Homo sapiens: one gene and its partners. The protein of the gene in region 2 purifies or fractionates together with the protein of the main gene of each other region. This does not show direct contact. Each region holds a gene or a part of one and is shown on either strand. Other genes may lie near its edges.

Region 1 (4,001 bases), on a different chromosome or scaffold from region 2:
CCTTTCAGACAGAAGTGGAAAGAAAAATCAGTGAAGGAAGGGATGTATGTGGACGAGGATTTAGCTTGAGAAATAGCCCAAGAAAGAAACCTCCATCAAATTATTAGGAAAGGGCAAACTCTGTGAGGGGAATAGAAATAGAAAGGGACTTAATACAGAAAATTAGGTGTTGACAAAATCATTGAAAGAGCTAGAGGAGCACAAGTCAGGTGCCTCTGGAGCTATGGTGTTCAAGAGCATACAACCATAGCTCTTTTCTGGGTTAAAAGGAGCGCCTCTGCTAGCTCCTGCCTCTAATTTCCTCTCAATACCCATGAGGCTATCCATGACTCCGGAACACGAAGTGAGCGTGCCAAGTAGAAAAGACGGCAGGAAGATGGCCTCTGTCTCATTTCCAGCTAATTAGTTTTGGTTCTGTTCCTGTTTATATCATTGTTTTCATGGAAAAGTTCACCTTAAGTTCTAAATCATTAACTTAGAAACCAATCTTTCAAAAATATTCCATTTGTAATCTGGAGTCCTTGTATCCTTAAACCAACCAACAGGACAAACAAAAATCATCTCCCTAAATAAAAACTAAATAAAATGAGTCCTTGGGATATGTTCCATAGTTGTTAATTTCATTTCTTCCTCAAATATCTTTACACATGTAATACTATTTCTACCATCATTACATGGCAATGCATAATTTCATTTACAGAACTTGAAAAAAACTAGAAAACAAGGCTTTGTGATAACATTACCAAGAAACGTTTTATCAGAAAAGCTTGCTTTTTACAACAATGGGTTGGGTTGCACCAATTTTTTGCTTATTTTTGTCTTCTTGACTAATTCTTCTTTGGTGCTAATGTAGTAGGAAATGCCTATCTCCGGTGTGATTTTCAATTATTGTGTATGGGGGCTTAGAATACATTAATAAATCTTGAGGCAAAAACAGAATGATAAAAATAACACTTCAAAGGAGTACAGGAGAATGAACTTTCATGACATTCAATGAAGGAGGCAGGTATGCAAAGTGATATGTTTTCTAAGATGTACTTTTCATTTTTTGTTTTATCCTTTTACTTTGTACCATAAGCAATTTTGGAAAGACCACAACTATTAGTGATGTCTACATAATCATACTAATGAAGTACACAGAAGCTTAAATGAAGTATTTTTATATGCTCCCTTACAACTATTTGAAAATTTACTTTGGAAACCCCTGCTCAAATGCAACCCCTCCCCACCCCCAAAGGAATTCTTGTGCTGTCTTCTTCACTTTTCCAGTTAAGCAATTTAAGTTAGAGGAAATCAAGCCCTTGAGCAAATGAATAGTTAACGGGAAAAACCACTAGGAAGGGAATCCGAAGAACAAGCTACCAAATTATTTGCTTGAGTCACTTTCTCTTATATTGTCACAGATGAAAAATTACACTCCACGTGGTGATCAAACCTAACGCTAAGGCATATTTTGTGTGCCACACAGTATTACTCTGTTTCCTAAGTAACCTATTGAAACAATGTAAGGTATACATCTATTAATGCATTTAGTGATGATACTGGAATTTGTGAAACGTGACAGAAAGGACAGATGAAGAAAGATGAGGAGAGACAGGTATTAATTGTCCTAACAGTACAGGCTGTAATAAAGGCCAATAATCATTTGAATTCCTGCTCCTTAATGTGAGTCTAAAGAGCGGCTTACCTCAGGTATTTGGAAAGTCTAAATACTGTATTTGCTGTAGAAAATTCATCCAACATACAATTCAATTTTTAAAATTAAACCTTTTGCCTAATCTTTAAGATATTTGATGTTATAATGCCCATTATCACACTTTATTTAAATGAGATAAACTCAGAGAGTTTAAAAAATTACGCAACTTCTCTTTTCCCTTACTATGGCTGGCCTCTTATAACCGAAAGCAATATTCTTGCCTCTCCACTTTTTAACTGAAGCTTTGATCTCATCTGTATTTATGAAGAACGTGCTCTGGGAGAGTCCCTGTCAAGACATTCATTGTAACACCCGCTCCTACTCATGCTTTCAGCGCTGCCCGTGGACGGAATCCACCCACACCTTCCAGACACGCTAGGTGTGGGCTCGGAAACGCAAGATGGAGGGCGGGAGGGGAGCCGGCGTCTCCTAAACCTGGCGCAGGGCACGGACTCGAAGTTGAAAAAGAAGTGTTTACAAGTGAGGCTTTTAAATAAATCACCGCTATGGAGGGCATTTCCTCCGAGCCCTGGGCGCCAGCCTGAGAATCCTCTGCCGGACGCCAGGGGACGAACCACGCTGACCCCGCCAGACACGCGACCCCGGGGCCGGCGCTGGCGTCTGCACTCGCGCGACCCCGCCGCTCCTCCTGGGAGCGCCGTCTAACCGCTCCCGGCGACGACTTCCCAGAGCGCCGGGGAGCCAGTGCCCACGCGGGGCAGAGCTGCGGCGCGGCCCGCGGGCCGGGCCCCTTCCCTCCAACGCCGGGCGGGGCTCGCGGCCCCCGACCCGGCCGCTTCGCCGCCGCCCCTCCCCGCGCTCACCTGCTCGCTCTCCTTCGGCCGCTGTCCGCGCCGCCGCGGGCTCGCCCCGGGATCCCACCCGGTCCCTGCCGCCTCCCGCTCCGCCAGCGCGTCCCCGTCCTCGTCGCGTTCCCCGCCGTCGCCGCCCCGCAGCAGCTCCCCGGCTGAGCACATCCCGCAGCCAACTCCTACCGCCCCGGACAGCCGCCGGAGGACCACGCCGCGACGCACCAGGCAGCGCCGCCGCCCGAAGGCTGCCCTGGGATCCGCCGCACCCGCCGCTGACAGGAGCCGCCGGAGCGCGCCCCGCCGGCCTGGGCGCCTGAAGTACCAGCCCGGCCCCTCCTGTCACTGGCTCGCCCAACCCCCGGCCGTCGGGGCGGAGCCGTACAGGGGAGGGGCCAAGACAGGGGGCGGGGCCAACGGTGTGTTGGGGGGCGGGGGTGTGTGTGTGAGATTGAGAGAGAGGCCGACAGACTGAGAGAAGAAGGGTGTTGTGTGAAAAACTATGGACATACACTGCATGAGGGAGATTGTACATGAGAGAGGCTGTGTGTATGTATGAGGGATATTGTGTGTGCGTAAGAGACCGTTAGAGAGTGTGAGAGAGACGCTGAGCGTGATTTGTGTGTGTGTGTGAGAGAGATTCTATATAAAAGAAACTGCGTATAAGAGATTGTATGCACTTTGGGAGGCCGAGGCGGGCAGATAGCTTGAGCCCAGGAGTTGGAGACCAGCCTGGGCAACCCCATCTCTACTAAAAATAGAATTAGGCGGGCGTGGTGGCGGCAGTGTGGTCCCAGCTACTCAGGAGGCTGAGGTGGGAGGATCGTCTCAGCGCGGGAAGTCGAGGCTGCAGTGAGCAGAGATCACACCACTGCACTCCAGCGTGGGCGACAGAACCAGACCCCGTTTCAGAGAGAGAGAGAGAGAGAGAGAGGAGGGGGGGGGGAAAGAGAGAGAGAGAGAGAGAGAGAGAGAGATTGAGATTGTATGTGTATGCAAGAGACTGTGAGAGAGAGATTGTATGAGGGAACAACAGAAACTGAGAGAGATCAAGTGTGAAAGAGAAATTACTTGTGTGAGAGAGCCAGTGCATATATTTAAGAGAGAGCGCATTTGTATAAGAGATTAGTGTGTGTGGGTTTGTATGTGAGAGAGAAACACACACATGCACCCAGTTACACTCTCCAGCAGAGTACCCCTGTTCTTGCCTGAGTATCTGCCCGTCCTTTTCAAGGAAGACACATTTCACTGTCCCTCTTGTTCCTTTAGCCTCCTTTCCTAGTGTCTCACTGAAGGTCTGTGTATTTGTCCCTTTCTGTTGAGTGCTTCCTAGTGTGTGTTGTTTGTTGGAGCCTTGGGTCGTTTGATGGTGTATCAAATGATGTATCTTTCTGTAACTGGGTAAGAATATGTCTTTCTCAGTGGGTGGTGAGGGGAATATATCCAATTGATAATTATTTTTTGTACTACTCCATCCATTTTATTCAAGGAAAATG
Region 2 (3,500 bases):
TTTCACCATGTTGGCTGGGCTGGTCTCAAACTCCTGACCTCAGGTGATCTGCTCACCTCGGCCTCCCAAAGTGCTGGGACTACAGGTGTGAGCCACCATGCCCTGCCGTATTGCCCACATTCTTAATGCAAGAAAATGCTAAATTTCAGTTAGAGATTAGTGAAAATAAAGATGTTATTTTTTCCCATCCTAGTTTACAGACCCCCCAGAAACCCACTCATGGATTCTCCCGAGTCTTTGGACCTGGCTCAGACACCCTTGCTTTGGATCAAGCCAATGCATGTATCCCCTAACACACCCATGCTTTATGTGGTCCCTGCCCCTCCCTGCTCAGGGGACTGCTTGTTAACTTCATTGGGTTGGGGACATATATATTATAGGAGAGAGACAGAGAAAAAGAAAGAGAGGAAATGTTATTCTCCTTGTCTGTATCTGTATCTCCACTCCGATTCCCATTCCCTCTGCTGCTCTCCTCTCTCTCCTCCCTTTTAACATCTCTCCCTCTCCCTGTGGCTTCTGTTGCCACCTTCCCTCTCCCTCACTGCCCAGGTGTGTGTTCCTGCCAGACAACGGCGCCTTCTTTGTCAACTACGTGATCACGGCAGCTTTACTTGGCACAGGCATGGAGCTGCTGCGTCTGGGGTCACTCTTCTGCTACAGCACCCGCCTCTTCTTCTCTAGATCAGAGCCAGAGAGAGTCAACATCAGAAAGGTACAGACTGGCTCTCCGCTGAGCACAGCCCTCAGTTTCCTTTGGGAGGGTGTCAGGGATAGAGCCTGCTAGAAGCACCAAGGGGGTTGAGGTGGGAGGGACGGTGTGGATGGGTGTTGGTGGGGCACCTTGGTCTACAGGGTTGGAAAGGAGGCTGCCTCCAGGCCTGAGCTGCCAGGAGGCTGATGAGGAGCCACAGAAGTAGTCAAGCCAAGGGGACTGGGCCACCTCAGGGTGACACCTGCCTTCTGCCCCAGAACCAGGCCATAGACTTCCAGTTTGGGCGTGAGTATGCGTGGATGATGAACGTGTTCAGCGTGGTGATGGCGTACAGCATCACTTGCCCCATCATTGTGCCTTTTGGTGAGTCATCTCCAAGGCATGCCCAAGGGCTGCACATCCGCAGATGGGGAGGAGGAATTGAGCCTCACAACATCAGTCCACCTCCTGGAGCATGGGGAGACCTGTGGTAGGGAGGGGTCAGGGCCAGGGCCAAGCTGGGGGTACAGGGCAGCTGAGGTTGGATGGCTGCCGATGGGGGATGTTTGTTGAATGAACGCATGAGAGAATGACTCTTCACCAAGCTGAAACAGTCAGTTCTCGGGGCTCAAGGGAAGCTGCTGGCTCCGGAGGTCAGTACCACGGAGCTCCCCCAACCCATCCTTGGTTGTTGTGACTCTGACAGCCGTGGATCTGGCTTCTCAGGCCTGTGGAGACACTGGAGCCACAAAGGTCCAGACTTGAAGGGGCCACTGAGTAAGTTTCCACCTTTGTCCCCCAGGGTTGCTCTACCTGTGCATGAAGCACTTGACGGATCGCTATAACATGTACTACTCCTTTGCACCCACCAAACTGAACGAGCAGATCCACATGGCTGCCGTCTCCCAGGCCATCTTTGCGCCACTCTTGGGTCTGTTCTGGATGCTGTTCTTCTCCATCCTGCGGTTGGGTAGGTACCAAGCCAGCCTGGAGACCCCACCTCCACCTGCCCCACTGTTCTGTGAGTCCCTTAACACTGACCCTGTTAGAGGAGAAAAGCCCAGGCAGGGCAAGACGCTGCTCACCAGACCTGGCCACACCCAGTGACTTCTCTGGGCCTAAAGGGCCTACATTAGAGTCTCAGCTGAGCTTCAAGGCTAAGAGGAGGCCCTGGACCAACATGGTCCCCAGGTGTGGATTTGGGTTTCCAGCGCTCAGGGAAGGAAACCTCATATTCCTTCTTTCTAAGTCTAGACGGGTGGAAAATAGAGTATCAGCTATTGGGAGGCTCAGTTCCCATGACATTTCCTCTGGGATCCCATAAGATGCCTGGTTTTTTGTTTTGTTTTTTAATTTTATTTTTTGAATCAGAATCTTGCTCTGTCGTCTAGACTGAAGTACAGTGGCGCGATCACGGCTCACTACAGCTTTGACCTCCTGGTCTCAAGCAATTCTGCCACTTCCCCCTCCCCAGTAGCTGGGACTACAGGCGTGAGCTGTCATGACTGGCTAATTGTTTTTAATTTTGTAGAGATGAGGTCTCACTATGTTGCCCAGTCTGGTCTGGAATTTCTGGGCTAAAGCGATCCCCTGGCCTAGGCCTCCCAAAGTGCTGGGATTATAAGCGTAAGCCGCCGGTGCCTAGTGGTAGATGCCTGGCTTTATGGGTTGCCAAAAAACCTGGAAGAGGAAACAGAGCCTGCAGTAGGGGCCAGCTTTTTCCTCACTCTTTAGCTACACACAGCTACTGCTCCTGCCCAGGGGAGCTCAGAGACACCCTCCCAGAAGCAGTCCCTGCAGGCCACAGATTAGAAATCTCTCAGCTTTCTCCCCGTTGGAGGCACCTTAACCCCCAGCAACCCCCAACCCCACTGCCCTTCCCTCAGACACCTGACCTTAACCTTCTCAGTGGTGGGAGAAGGGAGACGCGGTGTTTTCTTTCTTTTTTTTTTTTTTTCTTTTGTTTTTAGAGACGGAGTCTCGCTCTGTCGCCCAGGCTGGAGTGCAGTGGCCTGATCTCGACCCACTGCAACCTCCGCCTCCCGGGTTAAAGCTATTCTCCTGCCTCAGCCCCCTGAGTTGCTGGGACTACAGGCGGGTGCCACCACGCCCCGCTAATTTTTTGTATTTTAGTAGAGACAGGGTTTCACCATGTTGCCCAGGCTGGTCTCGAACTCCTGAGCTCAGGCAATCCGAGGCAGTGTTTTCTTTTCTCTCCCTGCCATGGTGGCATCCATACGGTCGACTCTCAGTCATTTATGTGGCTTACCCATTTGCCATCACCCCCAATTGCTTATCCCGCTAGCCTTTCCCTGCCACCCCAGAGACTTCATTTTTTCCATAATGCTTTTTTTCTAAGAATAAAGGACTGCATGTTTATCATCAAAAATAGAAAAAATATAAAGACCAACATGTAAATGACCCATCATCTTACCCAGAACCTGATGTCTTTTGTTCCCAGCCCCCTTTCCAGGCATGCGCTTTGGGGCTTTGGGCATGGGAACATTGAGAGGGAGCAGTTGGTCTATTGTTACTTTGCAAAACTGCGATAGTCCATATTGTAACATTCAGTCCTGTACCCTGAGGTTTTGTACTGAACACAATGTTCTGAGCAATTTCCTAGGTTGTTAAAAGACTGAACACGTAGGTGCCTTTCAGCGGTTGCATGAAAGTCTACCAGTTTTAGTCAGTTCTCCGTGATTGGATATTGAGGTTTGCCACTTTTTGCTACTATAAAAACACTGCAGTAAGCATCATTAAGCAGTGATTTTTGGCTGTAAAGCATAATTTAAACAACATTTACCTAGTT
Region 3 (3,500 bases), on a different chromosome or scaffold from region 2:
ATGGTGAAATCCCCCGTCTTTACTAAAAATACAAAAATTAGCTGGGCGTGGTGGCAGGTGCCTGTAATCCCAGCTACTCGGGAGGCTGAGGCAGGAGAATCATTTGAACTCAGGAGGCAGAGGTTGCAGTGAGCTGAGATCATGCCACTGCATTCCAGCCTGGGCGACAGAGTGAGACTCCATCTCAAAAAACAAAACAAAACAAAAACTAAGGAAGCCTTAATAAAGTACAGCCTTAAGTTAATAATAATGTATTGGCCGGGCACAGTGGCAGAGCAAGACTCCGTCTCGGAAAAAAAAAGAAATATCGTATCTTAGTAATGTGACAGATCTACTCCATCAAGTGGCTCTTATAAAGGTAAGGTCACATCACACTGCAGTCAACTACAAAACCAAAGATACCAAAATCCAAATTTAAAGAAACACATTTTCTAAAGGAAGCCTATTTAAAGCCTTTAACATTTACGAGGATTTCACTGTCACAAATACATTTTACAAAAATATAGTTTCATAGGTTTCATGAAATGTGAACAAGACTACTATTATCTAACATTTAGAGTAAATGATTAAACAGTCAATGCAAAGTTGGATTACTAAATAAATTGGAAGCCAAGGAGTCAATATTCCTTATAAAAATAAGTTAGAGTCTATCATGGTCTTGGTTGTCCAATTCTATTATTAGTTCCATATCTACTTGGTATATTTGTAAAACCAGTCCTCAATCCTTGAGTTGCTCCAATTCCTGGAACTCCAAGTCCTTGATTAAGCATGCTGCTGTAAGGTGTGTGTCCATGATTGAGACCAAAACCATAAGGCCTTGTTTGTGTGTTTAGAAGAATAACTGGGTTCACATTTTTCCCAGGAGTGTTAAATGAAAATTCTGGAGGTGGACTACTAGGTTTAGCTGGAGTTGATGTAACTGGGTTCAAATCATCAGTACCCTTTAAAAGAGGCATTGGGATTACGTGATGATCTGAAAAGTTTAGGACATTGGCTGCAACAGGCCCAGACAATAAGGCAGGCCTAATCCAGTCATCCTTGAAAATTTGAACAGTTAGAGTAGACACTAGAGTGTACAGCCTGTTGGTCACATGAGCAAGAACCATTTGTTCATTGGCATCTCGTCGAATTCTTACATGCACTGATCCAGCCTAAAAGGGGCAAAATCATAACAAAGAGATTGCTTAGAATTATACTAACAAAAAATTCATTAGATAAAACATTTTATTTATGATTTGGTAAGTTCCTGGCATTTTCTTTGAAAGAAAAAGCTTAATGTTAATATTTCTTAAAGACTACTTGCTGGTGATTATCATTGTAATGAGTTAAATAATTTGTGAATCTTTAAAATACAAAAAAAGAAATATCCATGTAGGAACAAGATAGGAATATTATAATACAAGGAAGAATATAAATGAAACATACAAAAAATACAATGTAAGAGCCGAAAAGGTAGGTATTAATTCCAATTGAAGAGGACTTCAAAAGAAGATGGCATTTAATCTACGGTTGGTGATTAAACAGAATTTCAAAAAGTAGAGACGCATTCCACACTGAGGGAAAAGCAATGAAAATGTATGGCATACTTGGTAAGAATAAGCAATAATACCAATATATAAAGAAGTCCTGGCCGGGCGCAGTGGCTCACATCTGTAATCCCAGCACTTTGGGAGGCCGAGGTGGGTGGATTACCTGAGGTCAGGAGTTCGAGACCAGCCTGGCCAACATGGTGAAACCCAGTCTCCACTAAAAATACAAAAAATTAGCCAGGCATAGTGGCGTGTGCCTGTAATCCCAGCTACTTGGCAGACCGAGGCAGGAGAACAGCTTGAACCCAGGAGGCGGAGGTTGCAGTGAGCCAAGATCGCACCACTGCACTCCAGCCTGAGTGACAGAGTGATATCCTATCTTGAAAAAGAAAAAAAAGAAGTCCAAGTATTTCAGGGGGCAGAAGAAGGAGGAGGGAGAGAGAAGAGAGGGAGAGAAGGAAGAGAGGAAGGAAAGAAGAGAAGGAGAAACAGAGGAAAGGGCTGGGTGTGGTGACTCACGCCTGTAATCCCAGCACTTTGGGAGGCTGAGGTGGGCGGATCACCCCTGACGTCAGGAGTTCGAGACCAGCCTGACCAACATGGTGAAACCCCACCTCCACTAAAAATACAAAAATTAGCCGGGTGTGGTGACATGTGCCTATAATCCCAGCTACTCAGGGGGCTGAGGCAGAAGAATTGCTTGAACCTGGGAGGCGGAGGTTGCAGTGAGCCGAGATCACGCCATCGCACTCCCAGCATGGGAAGAGAAGAAGGGAAGAAGGAAGAAAGAAAAATGATAGGTAGGTAATAAGGTTAAAAAGAGGCTACCAGAGGACTCTAAAATGATAAAGAATTTCAATTTAACATCTGCAACCTAACAGAAATAAATAATCAGAGTTCAGAAAAATTGTAGGTATAGATGACTGGAAATCAGGTAGGAAAAAAACTTCAACAATCTAGATTATAAATGAGGAGAGCTGCCAAGTGCAGTGGCTCATGCCTATAATCCCAGCACTTTGGGAGGCCAAGGCAGGTGGATCACCTGAGGTCAGGAGTTTGAGACCAGCCTGGCCAACATGGCGAAATCACGTCTCTACTAAAAATACAAAAATTAGCTGGGCATGGTGGCATGCACCTGTAATCCCAACTACTCAGGAGGCTGAGGCAGGAAAATCACTTGAATCCAGGAGGCAGACGTTGCAGAGAGCAGAGATCATGCCACTGCACTCCAGCCTGGGAGACAGAACAAGACTCTGTCACAAAACAAAACAAAACAAAACAAAACAAAACAAAACAAAACAAAACAAAACAAAAGAGGAGAGCTGAGCCAGGCCAAAAATAGTGGGATCAGAGAGGGACAGACAGATATATCATATTCCAGAGGTAGTAATGGAAGGACTTGATACCCAGCTGGAAGTAAAGGATGAGGAAGATTGACTCATCAAAGATGATATCAAGGCTTCTAAGGGATAGAGAACACCAGGCATTACAATGAGAGTTAGAAGTATATTTGTTAACTTGAAAAAGTGTTTACCATAAATTATGGGTTTTTTTGGTTTTGTTTTTTTGTTTTCTTTGTAGAGATGAGGTCTCACCGTGTTGCCCAAGCTGGTCTCGAACTCCTAGGTTCAAGCGATCCTCCTGCCTCAGCCTCCCAAAGTGCTGGGATTACGGGCGTGAGCCACCATGCCCGGTCCATAAATTATGTTTTTAAAGTAGATAATCAGCAAATGATCCTATTTTGGTTAACACAAACACACACACACAGACTCCCCCAGCCTGAGCAACATGGTGAAACCCCATCTCTACAAAAAATAAAAAAAATTAGCTGGGCGTGGTGGCACACATCTGTAGTGCCAGCTACTCAGCTACGCAGGAGGCTGAGGTGGGAGAATTGATTGAACCTTAGAGGTCGAGGCTGCAGTGGCTGCACCACTGCACGCCAGCCTGGGTGACAAAGAGAGACCTTGT
Region 4 (2,911 bases), on a different chromosome or scaffold from region 2:
GGGAGACCCACTGCTTGCCAAGCAACTGCTGGGCTAGAGCCCAGGCTGTGCGGCCTCCATTGTAGAGGGAGGGTTTTTATGCATATCCATCCCTCACTCTGGAGTCCTGCACTTAATCTGCACTTTGGGCCTTACTTGGGGGTAAATAGCATCATTGTGCACAGAAATGCCAGACAGTGTTTTGTGTTGATAGAAACGTATTCAGAAAGCAATGCCCATTGTTCCCCCTGGCTAAATAATAATTCCGTTTCCAGGCAGTTTGCTGATTAATCAGACAGGTGTCTTTCGTTCCACCAAGAAAAACAAAATCTGTCAGCAAGATGATTAAGAATAGATAGGCATATTTCAAAACAATTAAAATAGCATTTTTACAAGTCTGGTCCTTTAAACATTGAGTAGCTGCCTGCTGTTGGAGGCTTTCAGGAAACACACACCACATCCAAGCATGCCATCCTGTTAATACGCAATACGTCTCTAAAGGTGCTCTTCAGGCATTCCTCCCTGAATATGTCTGAAACCTCACAAAAGAATAAAAAATAGAGGCAACCAAACCACTGTTGAGTCAGGAAACACAGCAGAGATTATATTCTGGTTAAAAATAGAATGACCTTCTCCACCATAAAGAGAAAATGAAATTAATTTAGTCAAGGAGACAAAGGTCACCGGATCCAGATGATTCAACTTTTAGAAAGGCCCAGCTGCCTTTGGCCTTTGAGTTGGGGACCCTACGTGTGGTGAGGGAATGAACAGCGCCAGTAGTGCCCTGGCCTTCTGTGGACGCACACCCGGCAGCAGTAGGCTCTGTGTGCCTTCGCACATGTGAGTTATGATGCAGCAATGCAGGAGAAGAATAAAGCAGCTGTCTGTTTCAGATGACAGGAATAGGCCACTGGACTCCATTCTCTCCCAGCTGCTGTTGGAATCCCGTTTGTAGGAGGCTATAGGGTGGTCTCACTGCACATGCGCAGGTTTCCTAAGTCTGGTGCCAAATGTTTTCTTGGTAAGAACTAAGTCCAGTGCTTTTATAAGAGAGCACAGATACTGTTGGACTGCAGGGTCACAGGTGCCCTTTAATCCTCCACACCTGGTCTAGTACCTAAGACGTGTTTTGTGAATAAATGACTAAATGTTTCTTATATTTAATTGTAAGAAAAAGCTTGAAATGAAGTAAAAGGAGCTTTGACTCCAGAAACATTGAAATGAAACAAAGGAGTTCAGCTCTTGATGAATTGGTTACCTCTTTTATCTTTCAGAGTCAGAGCTGACAAATTTGGCAGGATTATACAGAGATGAACGATTGAAACAGAAAGCAGAGTCGCTGAAACTTGAAAACTGTGAGAAACTTTCCAAACTCATTGGCCTACGCAGAGGTGGCTGAGAGGATAATGGTCCTACGCAGGGCTGGGGTTTTGCTACTTGTTCCTATTTATGTTCCTGATTCCATTTTATAATACAAAACTAGGTAATGATGAACACTTTACTATTTGCTAACTTCGTTGGTTGGGCAGAGTGGCAGGAGCATGGGCACGAGAGCCAGATGTGTCTTCACAGGATCCTTCCTGGGGAGTGGCTCCAGGGACCAGGAGTAGTTCATCTAAGTTAAATTAATGGCAAGGCATTGGATTCCGTCTCCCTGCTCCATGCCTACCCTGCCTATGTGAATGGAGTTCAGGGCATCCCAGAGCAGATCCATGCTTTCTTCCTTCTTCCCTTCTTCAGTGAAGTCTTAAGAACCAGGCATTCCTAGGCTTAGCCAAAGCTTAATATTAGTTATTTACACTGTCTACCAAGAATTATACCTCTCCCTTCATTAGAGTCATCATCTCCGCCAAGATTTAGCCTTTGGAACATGTTCCTGCCCAGCTTTCCATTTTCTAGGGGAATATGGAGAAATTTAAACTATTGTAGTCAATAGTTTTCTATTATTCCAATCTCTGCTCAGTTAGTAGCATTAGCAAACTGCCTAATTTGAGATTCCTTTATTTCCTTAACCCTCTCTCCTTTAGAGAGTCCAGAAATTAAAACTACTGAGCAGCATCTGGAGGCGGGGGCCAGGGCGAAGGTATAATGCAAGACCGAGCCTCATCTCCTCCACGAAGCCTCCCTACTCCATCATAGAACCCAGAGAATGTCCCTTCGGTCATTTCCCCTCAGTATCATCATTGGTGTCATCGCACTTAGGCTGAGTTCCTACATCCCACAGAGGCAGATGGTCAGACCCAGGAGGAGGCATTGCCAGCTCTCCAGGCTGTTTGCTCAAGCCTAGAGATAGAGGAGACAGATCCTCTCTCCTTGGATATGGGGGTCTAGCTTTGGCCCCAGCAGCCACTTTGTTTAACCCAGTATCCTATAGTTTGTGATTTGAGATGATTTTTCATTCATTCAACATTTATTGAGTGCCTACTATAAAAGCAGGGGCTCTCACACATATTTTCTTACTTAAACCTCCTCACAACTCTGAAGTAGATGTATTATCCCTGGTTCTATGAATGAGAACATTGGCCCAGAGAGGATGACCCAGGTCTTGTAGTGGCAGAGCAAGACGGTAGGCTGAGTGTCAAGTAGAAAGTGGGAGAGCATCCTCATGTCTCAGGTGATTCTAGCCAGACTGGCAAAGCAGAACCTTTCCCGAGGATGCCTCCGTCCTCCCCAACCCCATGACCCCTCATCTTTTCTGTGGCAATCTTGCATCTGTTCAGGACAACATCCCTGCTGCTCTTTAGGAAGCAGGACCCTGTCTAACATAAATTCTGTACACAAAATAAGAGGTCCCTCACAGGCAGGCAGCCCTCCACTGGTGACTAGGAAGAATTCAGTCACTGCCTGGGCTGTGTGGTTCTGGGCCTTCCTGTGGAGCTGAGCTGCCTGAATTATCATGACTCTGAACTTGGAAGGATCATTAAGTGACTGT
Region 5 (3,931 bases), on a different chromosome or scaffold from region 2:
TTACAGGCACGCACCACCACACCCGGCTAATTTTTGTATTTTTAGTAGAGACGGGGTTTCACCATATTGGCCAGGATGTGGCCACGATCTCTTGACCTTGTGATCCACCCGCCTTGGCCTCCCAAAGTGCTGGGATTACAGGTGTGAGCTACCACTCCCCTCCTCAGCTTCGTTTTCTTAATGACCTTTTAATTTTAGAACAGTTTTAGATTAACAGAATTTATTTTATTTATTTATTTTTTGAGACCGAGTCTCACTCACTCTGTTGCCCAGGCTGGAGTGCAGTGGCACGATCTTGGCTCACTACAAACTCCACCTCCCGGGTTCAAGTGATTCTCGTATGCCTCAGCTTCCCGAGTATCTGTAGCGGGGATTACAAGTGTGAGCCAACGCCCCCGGCTAATTTTTGTAGTTTTAATAGAGACGGGTTTCACCATGTTGGCCAGGCTGGTCTCTACCTCCTGAGCTCAAGTGACCCGCCCGCCTCGGCCTCCCAAAATACTGGGATTACAGGTGTGAGCCACTGCGCCCGACCTAAACTTCGTTTTCTTAATAACCTTTTAATTTTAGAACAGTTTTAGATTAACATAATTATTTTGAGGGCAGTAGGGTCCTCTATACCCCACGCAAGACAGGTTTTTCAACTCTAACTTCTACTTCCACCCCACGCAGACTCTCCGCACCTCTCTCCTCTCATCTCGGGTTCTGACAAGGCCTGATCCTCACAGCCCAAATTCACGATTGTGAGGAAAGGTCAGCTCAGACCAAACGTCACCGCCCAGACAGACACAACTAGGTCAGGCGTCAAGCTCGCGGACATCCGAGCCCGGAAACCCTAACACTCCTCCAGGGGTAGGTTCTCCAAGCCTGAACATTTTTAACCTCAAAACGCCCAGGATCTCGGAGGCGTGTGGTGGATGCCACATAAATACATAACACATAACAACGACTTATTATTTAGCGCCAGGCCTGAAGGCCGTTCTCAGGCGCAGCTCGCTTGTTCTCGCTGCCAAAACACCCCGGCAGCCGTGAGCTCTCCACTCGGCGCGGTGCGGGGGCGGGGCTAGGAGGTGGAGCCGGGGCAGGGCGCGCGCGCGCGCGTGAGAACGTCCGGGGAGCGCGCGCGCCGCCGCCGTTGCCGCCGGGCTGAGAGAAGAGCTTGCGGGGTTTGCGGTTGATGGCCCCGACTGAAGGGCTGGAGGCGGTGTATGCCGCTGTTCTTGCTGTCGCTCCCGACACCTCCGTCCGCTTCTGGTCATGAGAGGTTAGGCCTGGGGGAAGCGGGCAGAGGAGGAGGCGGCGAGGGGCCGCGGCGCAGGGGGCTCTGGGGAGAATAGGCACTCGAGGCTCGGACGTGGGTGGAGAACTCTGCCCTCGGAGATTCCGGAAGAGTTGTGTTGAATTTTCTTCCCTTTTTTCTCCTCTTTCTTGTCTGTGCATGAAGGAAAGTGGGAGGGTTCTATGTTATTTATAGAAAAGACACTGAAAGCCTGCTGTCCAACGTCGCTCTTCAGTTTTGACGAAATAACACCCGTGGCGTCGGGGCCTCGGTGAAAGCCTTTAGTGAAAAGCACTGAAACCCAAACCGCCAGACACGGTGACTGCACCACTGTTCAGTCCTGGGAGTGAAATAGAATGACACAGAACATTCCCTGACGTTAACTCTAGCCTCCTCCTAGACAAACGGGAAAAGCACGGCAGTGTGGGATAGCCTCTGCGTTTTGTCAGCTGGGATTCCGACTCTGTTCTTCTGTTTCTAGGAGGTCCACACTGGATCATTTATTAGAGAGATCTTTCTCTGCTAGAGTCCTCTTTCCTCACACCCCTCCCTCCGTAATACACACACCACCGACGGTGGCATTTTATTGGGCGGACTGTGTAACTGCTTATTCAGACTAAAGAGTTACCTAGCAATTACGTGGTGACTCTCCAAAGTATCTATGCTTTAAATGTATTTAGGTAACATTCTTTTGCGCGGGGAGGTAATATTATTGGTGGCACCATTAATTATTGGAAACTTTATGAGCTTTGGGAAAGCTGCTTGAGCAGAAAATCTAATTTGTAGGTCACCTAAGTGCAGTGTTTATTATTAGTTACCTATGATGATAATAAGGCATTAAGATTTAATGTTGTTTTTTTTCCTAACATTTCCAACCATTAAAAAATACTGGCTCACTCTTCCTTATGAAACTTCTTTGATGTAGAATCTACATCAGAGATGAAACTGCACCATTTGGGAAAAGTAAATGTACCAGAGTACCCAGTGAGGACTGGTGCTCATTAACATCTGCTGGGTACCCATACTTCATGACTGTTTTGCGGATGCCTTCTGCCATTAGAGAACTGGAAGCATTTGCAGCTCAACTTTTTTTTTTTTGGTGCAAATGTTCCCTAAAAGATCATTTGTGTAGGGCAGCAGAGCCTTGGCATTAAGGGAGAAGGGAGGAGTCCAGTGATAAATAACCTGAAAATTCATCTGTTGTGATTATTTGCTACTCCTTTAGTGAATAAAGGATACCCAGTGAGGAATATACTGCTGGTATTTAACTGCCTGTTTACTTAGAATATCTTTTATTTGATTTTTTAGGAGACAGAGGCCTGAAGCAAAGACATCTGGGTCAGAGAAAAAGTATTTAAGGGCCATGCAAGCCAATCGTAGCCAACTGCACAGTCCTCCAGGAACTGGAAGCAGTGAGGATGCCTCAACCCCTCAGTGTGTCCACACAAGATTGACAGGAGAGGGTTCTTGCCCTCATTCTGGAGATGTTCATATCCAGATAAACTCCATACCTAAAGAATGTGCAGAAAATGCAAGCTCCAGAAATATAAGGTCAGGTGTCCATAGCTGTGCCCATGGATGTGTACACAGTCGCTTACGGGGTCACTCCCACAGTGAAGCAAGGCTGACTGATGATACTGCCGCAGAATCTGGAGATCATGGTAGTAGCTCCTTCTCAGAATTCCGCTATCTCTTCAAGTGGCTGCAAAAAAGTCTTCCATATATTTTGATTCTGAGCGTCAAACTTGTTATGCAGCATATAACAGGTAGGACATAATAAAACATTGACTTGTTTTCATTCCTAAATTCAGTTAATTTTCTTTCATTATTGGTAATCTACTTAATGCATCCAGTTACTTATTTTCTGTGAGCTTTTATTATTGTATATGTTTATTTTTAATTTGTGTCATTGTTAGCTTATATAATCCTCTTTGATTTTTTTTTCTTTCAATTAACTGGAACTTATTTTCTAACAGGAATTTCTCTTGGAATTGGGCTGCTAACAACTTTTATGTATGCAAACAAAAGCATTGTAAATCAGGTTTTTCTAAGAGTAAGTATAACAAGCAACTAAAAAATTATTAACTGTTTCTCTCCATAGATTTTAGAGAAATAATTTTGAGAGAAATAGGAAATAACTTGAAAGAAATAGGAAGTAATAGGATATATTGTAACATCCACGTTATGTTAAATTTGTTATCTAAATCCTGGAATAAATTATCTCTCCTAATGCTGAATTCCTTCACCTTACCTTCTTTGTAAGAAAAAAAAATTGGTTACTGTTAAAGTAGTAAAAAGGATTAAAAGAGTTAGAACACGGTATCTGATCTGATTTGGCAAGTCCCTTCATGTTGTATCAGTTACTTTGACCATAGTAAGTAAGACCATCATCATGAAAAACTTTTAGTGGCTGGGCATGGTGGCTCACACCTGTAATCCCAGCACTTTGGGAGGCCGAGGCGGGCAGATCATGAGGTCAGGAGATTGAGACCATCCTGGCTAACACGGTGAAACCCTGTCTCTACTAAAAATACAAAAAATTAGCTAGGTGTGGTGGCATGTGCCTGTATTCCCAGCTACTCGGGAGGCTGAGGCAGGAGAATCACTTGAACCTGGGAGGTGGAGGTTGCAGTGAGCTGAGATCGCACCACT
Region 6 (3,969 bases), on a different chromosome or scaffold from region 2:
ACTTACTATGGGCCAGGTATTGAACTAAGCAGCTCTTACACATATTACCTTGCAGGTTATCTTATTTTTTCCCATTCCACAGATGAGAAATTGAGGCTGAGAAAGGTGTTATTCCACCAGTGAATTATAGCTTCTTATCTTTTCTGACTACCAGTGAGGATGATAACAATTATAAGCGATAAGTCATCTGCCACTTAGGTGAGAGTCAGCCAAGTACAGAACAGAGGAAGGACCAGAAGGACCAGCCTACAAGGACACTATGGTTTGGACAATTATTTTAAAATATGTGTTTTTTGCAAGAATACCAACAGTAACAGCTAACACCCAGTGCGTCCTTACTAGGTGCCTACCTAACGCGGGGGAAGTAGTGGATTCTCAGGGCTATGACACGAGGCAGTGTGTACAGTCAAGGGTTAAATACACGAATTTAGAGCCAAACTCCATGGGTTCGGGCCGAGGCTCTGGCATTCCGGGTGTGTGACTTTTGGTAGGTGATTTGACTCCTCACCTGCAACATAGGGATAGGACCTACCATGAGGCCCTAGTTAGGACTAGGACCTAGTGCGTGTGAAGCACTTGGAGGCGCACAATGTATTTTCATCACTTCAGAAAGGAGGAAACTGAGGCCATGGCACCTGAAGCGCAGCACTCTCTGTCCAGTAACTAAGGAACCCGGGGTCTCTGTCCAGTAACTAAGGCACCTGGACTCGGGCCACTGGGAGGTGCAGCGGCAGAGAAGGGGTTACCATGATAGAGACGGTAGGAGGACCCGGGGTGGCACGAGCGTCCCTCTCCACCACTTCACTCTCCTCACGGCGGGCCCGGGGACCCGGCCGCGCAGGCGCGAGGAGCCCGGGTTGTCGGGGGGGCACCGCCCTAGACACCCGGAAGTCTCCGCCTAACGGGCCCAGCCCGCACCTCCTGTCCGGGAAGGGGGCGGGGCCGAAGCCCCTCGGCGCGGGGCGCCATAGAGCATGGACGGAGGACCTGCGTCCTAGACACTTCCGGAAGTGGCTCCCTCAGGCGCCCGCCGGGCACCACAGAGCTGGGGGCGGTGGCCGGGATAGCGGGCTCGCCTTCCTAGAGCGGCGAGGACAGGGTGGCGGCCCGGGGGGCAGGGAGTAGGGAGAAGGGGGGGAGCGGCGCGGGCGGAAGCGGCCGGGAAGGTCACTTCCGGCCTGGGCGCCCGTCCCCCTGACCCCAGGGTCTGAGTCGCCGCTGCCGCCGCTGCCACCATCCGCGAGGCAGGAGAGAGGAGGAGGAGTGCGGCGCGGCGGCCCCGGGACCAAGGAGGTGAGGGGTGGGGGCGGGGGCCGTGCGCTGGGGGCCAGGTGGGCGCGCGCTTCGGGAAGCTGGGCTTGGGCTGGGGGTGGGTGGGGAGACTGGAGGGCGAGCGCGACTGGGCGGCGGGCGCGCGTGCGCGCTGCTGGGGGGGCGTGAGTGGGCGCGCGGCCGGGGTGACGCGGGCGGGGGGAGTGCGCGTGCGCGCCGAAGAGCTGTGGGAGGGGACGCGCGCCCGGGCGGCCCGCGGGCGGCGAGCGGGGCTGGAGGGGGGGTGCGCGTGCGCGGGTCCGGGTCCAGGGCGCGCGCGTGCGCGTGGCGGGGGCAGGAGCGGGGGCCTCGGTGGGGGTCCCTCTGCTGCGGGCCGTCGGGGGTGGGGCCGCTGTCCGTCCCCCCGAAGTTCCAACTCCGCCGGTCGTGGCCGGAAGTGGTGGCGACTTCGGGGGGAAGTTGAGGCCCAGGTGGGGGAAGGGGCCGCGCGGTTGGGCTGGCCTGGCCGGATACCGCGGCCCCGAGGGCACGGTCTCAGCCCTCGGCCCCCCCAGCCCTTCCTTCCCCTTTTCGAGTCAGCCCGGGTCCCGTTGCTGCCCCGGGCGGGCTGCGCGTGGCCTTTGATCAGGCGGGTAATTACGGGGATTCTGGCCGGCAGGAGGCCCATTCATTCGTCCTTGCTCGGCAGGCGGGGAGGAAGCGCGTCCCCAGCGGGGGAAGTGACTGGGCCAAGGTCAGCCACCGCGTGGCCCACGGGGCAGGGCGAAGGCGGGGACTGGATCGGGTGGCGACTCCTGAGGCCTCCCTCCCCTGTGCCGAGTGGATCAGAGTGGAGCCCCGCCCTCCTGACACCCCACCCCGACCCCCAGTCCAGGGAGCTGACCCCAATTCATGTGGATGAGTGCTCTGGGACCTGCAGAGTCGCACAGAAAAGTGACCCACAGACACAGAAGGCAGGAGTGAGTGGAGGCAGAAGTTTTTCCAGTGCCAGGCCCTGTGCCGGGCACTAGAGACAGGGAGCAGGGAGATGAACAAGGGCTTGGAGTCTGGGTGGAAGGCAGAGACTGAGACCCGGGCGACAGAGTCGCCATCCAAGGTGACCAGACCCCTGATGGAGAGGTCTGGGGGCTGTGGGAGCCAGGGAAGGCATTTTGACCCAGCCCAGTCCGGGGGATGGTCAGGGCTTTAGGGAAGGAATGGCTTGGTCTGCTCTTTGCGGTGTCCTGCTCCCAGGTCCCATGTTGCGCAGTGCTTAGAACCCATCTGGGGATCCGATTGACCCCAGCGCCGGGAAGCACAGTTGCGTTGATCCTGGCTTAGCTCCTCTGAAGACCGTAAGCCTCTTTGGCTAAACGCTGCTGACATTCACCTGCCTGCCTCTGCGCAGTCCCTGTGGTCCTCCGGCCACGCACGGCCTCAGAGAACATCCAGATCAGATTCCTGCTTGCTTATCTCATGTCTTATCCATCCATCCGGGCACCCGGCCTGGCCCCTCCCTGGTGCACTGCCAGAGTGTGTGCAGGCACTGGGTTGTATTCCCCAAGAGCTCTGGGACTGGGCAGGCCTGGGTTCAAGTCCCAGCCCCACCACTCACCTTCGTGGCCTTAGACGAGTAACTTCAGTGCCTTACTTTCCACCAGGACAGAGTGGGAGTGGTAATAATAGTATTGACCTCAGCGGGAAGGCTCTTAATGCTTTCATTTTAGAGCCAGAGCAGACCTCAACAGATGGGTGTAAAGTAAATGGAAAGGGCTCTGGAGCCAGGCCCTTTCCTGGGCCTTGGCCTTGGCACTGTCTCTTCCACTTCTGTGACCTTGGACATGTCACTTCCCTTTTCCCAGGTTCAATTTCCCTTCAGTTGTCTAAAAACGAGAGCAAGTTCACAATTCCCTGAGTAAATGTAATCCATCCAGGCGGCTGCACAGGCCAGGCCCTGTGCTGGGCATGAGGTCACACATGGTCTTGGCACAGCACTGTCCTGTGAGGGCCCAGATGAGGTGCCTGGCCCAGCCTGGGTGAAGAGAGGGATCTCAAGGCCCTTCTGTGCAAGCACAAGGTAGAGTGGTGCTCCGTGCTGGGCAGCCTGGCAGGAATCATACAGTCCCTGTCCCAGAGCAGCTGAGACCCATTCACACTGGGCAGAGGGGTGGGGAGATTTGCCAGAGTGCTCCCGGGAGCTCTGACCTTGAGGGAGGGGTGTGTGGTGCAGGGGAGGTATTGTGTCTTGAAAGATAGAGAGGAAGGATTGGCTACCAGGAACCTGGTACTTAAGGGAGGATGACAGTGGGCTCTGGGCAGGGAATGGCAGGGGTCACAGCTCAAGGCCACCAGCAACTGCCTGGCTGCCCTGGGAGGTCTTTTGTTACTAGGCATACACAGCTCTCAGGACACCCATCCTCAGACATGTTTCACAGGCCTTTCCAAACCTCGTTCGTGTGTCCTCTGGTGCATCCTGAGGCCTCCAGCCTAGTGAGGACTGTGCCAGGTGCTGGGGCCTCTGTGGTGTGAGAAACTGCAGATTCGACAACACTTGCTGGTGCACACTTTGCAGGAACCTGGCCCAGTGCCTGGTCCTCACTGTCCTAAATTCTCAAGGCTCTGGGATGGAGGTGGTCACCTCCATTTTAGGGGTATGGGATGGAGGCTCTGGATGGCACTTGTTAGCCCAAGGCCCCCAGCAGCTTCAGAACCTGTGTC
Region 7 (3,500 bases), on a different chromosome or scaffold from region 2:
ACAGATAAACTGTGGTAAAGTCATAACGTTGAATACCCATATCATGAGGCTACTAGCAACAATGTGGATGAACTTTTAAAAATGTTGAATGAAAGAAACAAAACATGAAAGAATATATACAGTCTGATTCTTTTTACATAAACATCAAAACAGACCAAACTAGTGTAAGCTGGAAAAGTTTGAATAAAATTGTTAAAAAATCGTTGGGCGTGGTGGCTCACACCTGTAGTCCCAGCAATTTGGGAGGCTGAGGCAGATGGATCACTTGAACTTAGAAGTTCAAGACCAGTGTGAGCAACATGGTGAAACCCTGTCTCTACTAAAAACACAAAAATTAGCTGGGCATGGTGGTGGGCGCCTGTAGTCCCAGCTACTCAAGAGGCTGAGGCAGGAGAATTGCTTGAACCTGGGAAGTGGAGGTTACAGTGAGCCGAGATTGCACCACTGCACTCCAGCCTGGGCAACAGAGCAAAACTCCATCTAAAAAAAAAAAAAGGTAAAAAATAATATAGCATTGACTAGTTGCAGTGGCTCACACCTGTAATCCCAGCATTTTAGGAGGCCGAGGTGGGTGGATCACTTGAGGTCAGGAGTTCAAGACCAGCCTGGCCAACATGGTGAATCCTTGTCTCTACTAAAAATACAAAAATTAGCTGGGCGTGGTGGCGTGCACCTATAATCCCAGCTACTTGGGTGGCCTAGGCAGGAGAATTGCTTGAAACTGGCAAGTGGAGGGAGCCGAGATCATGCCACTGCACTCCAGCCTGGGCGACAGAGTGAGACTACATCTCTACTACTATTACTACTACTACTACTGCTACTACTACTACTACTACTACTACTGTATAAAAGCAATATTTCTAAATATATTTTATTTTTTATTCATTTGTATTCATTATGGTTTTTAGAGACAGAGTCTCACACTATTGCCTAGGCTGGAGTGCAGTGGCACAATCATAGTTTTTTTTTGTTTTGTTTTGTTTTGTTTTTTGAGACGGAGTCTCACTCTGTCACCCAGCTGGAGTTCAGTGGCACGATCTCAGTTCACTGCAACCTCCATCTCCCGGGTTCAAGCGATTCTCCTGCCTTGGTCTCCTTAGTAGCTGGGATAACAGGCGTGTGCCACCACGTCCGGCTAATTTTTGTATTTTTAGAAGAGACGGGGTTTCACCATGTTGGTCAGGCTGGTCTCGAACTCCTGACCTCGGGATCCGCCCGCCTCGGCCTCCCAAAGTGCTGGGATTACAGGCGTGAGCCACCACGCCCAGCCAACACAATCATAGTTCACTGCAGCCTCAAATCCTGGGCTCAAGTGATCCTTCCTGCCTCAGCCTCCCAAAGTAGCTAAGACTACAGGTACACACCAGCACACCTGGCTAATTTTTAAATATCTGTAGAGATGGGATCTCGCTTTGTTGCCCAAGCTGGTCTTGAACTCCTCAATTGATCTTTCCACCTTAGGTTCCCAAATTGTTGGACTTACAGGCGTGGAGCCACCCTGACTAGCCTCTAAATATATTTTATATGATGTAATCTGAAGTAATGTATATGGAACTAAATCAGTGAGTTAAATAATGCAAGTAGACATTTGGCTTCTGTCTATACCCACACCCCCACCCAAATCAATACATTTATTTGAGTCAAAATATTTAGTGTTTGTGTATCTTTTTATTGGGGGAAAAAAGTGAGGACAAAATATTTGGTTATATATGGCATTTAGGAGATTGGGTATTCCTGGTTACTGACTAGGTTTGATTGAAGAAGAAATGATCAGGGATGATCCAAGTTTCTATTTAAATAACTGGATGAATGCTGTTACTTGTTGGAATAGGGGATACATTAAGAGCAGTTTTGAACTTACTGAGTTTATAGAATCCAGTTGAAGTTTTATAAAGCAGGAGAGTCCAGGAGACAGGCAGAGATTAGAGATTTGAATTTTATTTGAAATCAGATTGAGCAAATAATTTGGCTCAGTAAGAACACATAGAAGACAGAAAAGCATAGGATGAAACCATATAATTTAAAGAACTTGGGAACATTCTAAGGAGGGGGTGTTATGAGAACCAGAAATACCAGAAATAGCCAAATGGGAAGGTTGGGTGGTTTGCCTGTCACAAAACAGTATTTTTATTCTTTATTATTAATGTCCCCTTCTATTGCCATAAATCTACTTTTTTCTGATTTGTTCAGAAAGCAGTTTAAGTTGTATTTATCAATTTTGATTGATTTTTAAGTCATTTCTAAATGCTGGAGAAAATCTCAAGATGTTTGATGTTTCAAATTAAGGGAAGCTGGAGATCAAGAAGTAATTTTGGCAAACATAGGATTTAGAATAGAAATTCTTAATCTAAAATTCAGAATATAAACTACTGAAATAGTTTTAAATATTGAGGCAGTTCTTAAAACTTTTTTTTGACTGACCTTTGCATATCTTTAGATACCATTATATATTCACTGTTACTGAAAACCCTTTGAAAATATTTCTTATAGAAATTTTCACAAAAGTAGACAAAATTATGTAATAAACTTCTTACTCAACGTTGTTATCAACCCTTGGCTTGTTCCATCCCTTCTCCCACCACTTACCTCACTGGATTTTTTTAAAGTAAATCCCAAATATTCTATCTATAAATATTTCAGAATACCATATTTATTGAAAATTTCCATGGAGTGTGAAATGGTCAATCATAAATACTTTTACAGTTTTAACTTGGCTATTTCGTATTTAAAATTACCTGGTTAAGTATTCATGTGAGCAATTATGAAGAGTTTTATGCCTTCCTAAAATAATGTTTTACTTTTAATTGCAGGGAAAATTATAAAATCTGTTCCTGGAAAACTAATGAAAGAGGTGAGTAACTGATTTATGTGTGTTCTATAACATGATAATCATAAACATATTTAAATATTGATAAATTTTGCTGGATTATGTACTAAAAATTACCTTTATTTTTTATTTTCTTACAATAATCTATCACCACAGAAAGGTCAGCATTTGGAACCTTTTATCATGAATTTCATTAATTCTTGTGAGTCTCCAAAGCCTAAACCAAGTAGACCAGAACTGACCATTCTCAGCCCTACTTCAGAAAACAACAAGAAGGTACTGCACATTGCATTAAAGAACTATTAAGTTTTAAGTTGCCCTACTTGAGATTACTTTTTCATTGTCGAGAGAATGAATACTTTGTTAATGAAATGGATTGAGCTATACATTTCCTTTATGTGGAAATCAGTTGAACGGTATACAGAGGGTATTGTGTGTAATTACTTGGTTCTTTGCTTTAATGTGGTAAATGTTTCTCTGGATACTATATTTGCAAACTGATGCCACTTCTGTATTTGGGGATTTTTAAAAGTGGTTTTCTTAGGTTATATGTCACCAACTTTCAATAATAAGAAATTAATTGCTATACTGTGTTTATGTTTATTGGATGGCATTACCTAACTTTCATGGCTTATAAAGTATTTTATCCATTCATTAAACAAACATTTTATTA

What was found.
Region 1: the proteins of TMEM63C (region 2) and FAM241A purify together in Homo sapiens (affinity purification with mass spectrometry; one large-scale study listed by BioGRID and IntAct). This does not show direct contact.
Region 3: the proteins of TMEM63C (region 2) and SLC30A6 purify together in Homo sapiens (affinity purification with mass spectrometry; one large-scale study listed by BioGRID and IntAct). This does not show direct contact.
Region 4: the proteins of TMEM63C (region 2) and DNAJC18 purify together in Homo sapiens (affinity purification with mass spectrometry; one large-scale study listed by BioGRID and IntAct). This does not show direct contact.
Region 5: the proteins of TMEM63C (region 2) and RNFT1 purify together in Homo sapiens (affinity purification with mass spectrometry; one large-scale study listed by BioGRID and IntAct). This does not show direct contact.
Region 6: the proteins of TMEM63C (region 2) and ZNF787 purify together in Homo sapiens (affinity purification with mass spectrometry; one large-scale study listed by BioGRID and IntAct). This does not show direct contact.
Region 7: the proteins of TMEM63C (region 2) and SNX14 purify together in Homo sapiens (affinity purification with mass spectrometry; one large-scale study listed by BioGRID and IntAct). This does not show direct contact.

Annotation. Positions count from the first base shown.
Region 1 is NC_000004.12:112,144,253-112,148,253, reverse strand, and holds the start of FAM241A (uncharacterized protein FAM241A), read right to left. Parts: upstream 2,801-4,001; 5' UTR 2,674-2,800; coding exon 2,521-2,673; intron 1-2,520.
Region 2 is NC_000014.9:77,247,798-77,251,297, forward strand, and holds part of TMEM63C (osmosensitive cation channel TMEM63C), read left to right. Parts: intron 1-549; coding exon 550-712; intron 713-969; coding exon 970-1,075; intron 1,076-1,493; coding exon 1,494-1,661; intron 1,662-3,500.
Region 3 is NC_000002.12:32,217,864-32,221,363, reverse strand, and holds part of SLC30A6 (zinc transporter 6), read right to left. Parts: intron 1,152-3,500; coding exon 651-1,151; 3' UTR 1-650. UniProt on the Homo sapiens protein: Has probably no intrinsic transporter activity but together with SLC30A5 forms a functional zinc ion:proton antiporter heterodimer, mediating zinc entry into the lumen of organelles along the secretory pathway.
Region 4 is NC_000005.10:139,412,615-139,415,525, reverse strand, and holds part of DNAJC18 (dnaJ homolog subfamily C member 18), read left to right. Parts: intron 1-1,253; coding exon 1,254-1,378; 3' UTR 1,379-2,911.
Region 5 is NC_000017.11:59,961,941-59,965,871, reverse strand, and holds the start of RNFT1 (E3 ubiquitin-protein ligase RNFT1), read left to right. Parts: upstream 1-1,131; 5' UTR 1,132-1,208; coding exon 1,209-1,264; intron 1,265-2,587; coding exon 2,588-3,045; intron 3,046-3,255; coding exon 3,256-3,332; exon of another isoform or gene 3,333-3,509; intron 3,510-3,931. UniProt on the Homo sapiens protein: E3 ubiquitin-protein ligase that acts in the endoplasmic reticulum (ER)-associated degradation (ERAD) pathway, which targets misfolded proteins that accumulate in the endoplasmic reticulum (ER) for ubiquitination and subsequent proteasome-mediated degradation.
Region 6 is NC_000019.10:56,118,496-56,122,464, reverse strand, and holds the start of ZNF787 (zinc finger protein 787), read left to right. Parts: upstream 1-1,169; 5' UTR 1,170-1,293; intron 1,294-3,969. UniProt on the Homo sapiens protein: May be involved in transcriptional regulation.
Region 7 is NC_000006.12:85,517,359-85,520,858, reverse strand, and holds part of SNX14 (sorting nexin-14), read left to right. Parts: intron 1-2,810; coding exon 2,811-2,851; intron 2,852-2,983; coding exon 2,984-3,103; intron 3,104-3,500. UniProt on the Homo sapiens protein: Plays a role in maintaining normal neuronal excitability and synaptic transmission. May be involved in several stages of intracellular trafficking. Required for autophagosome clearance, possibly by mediating the fusion of lysosomes with autophagosomes.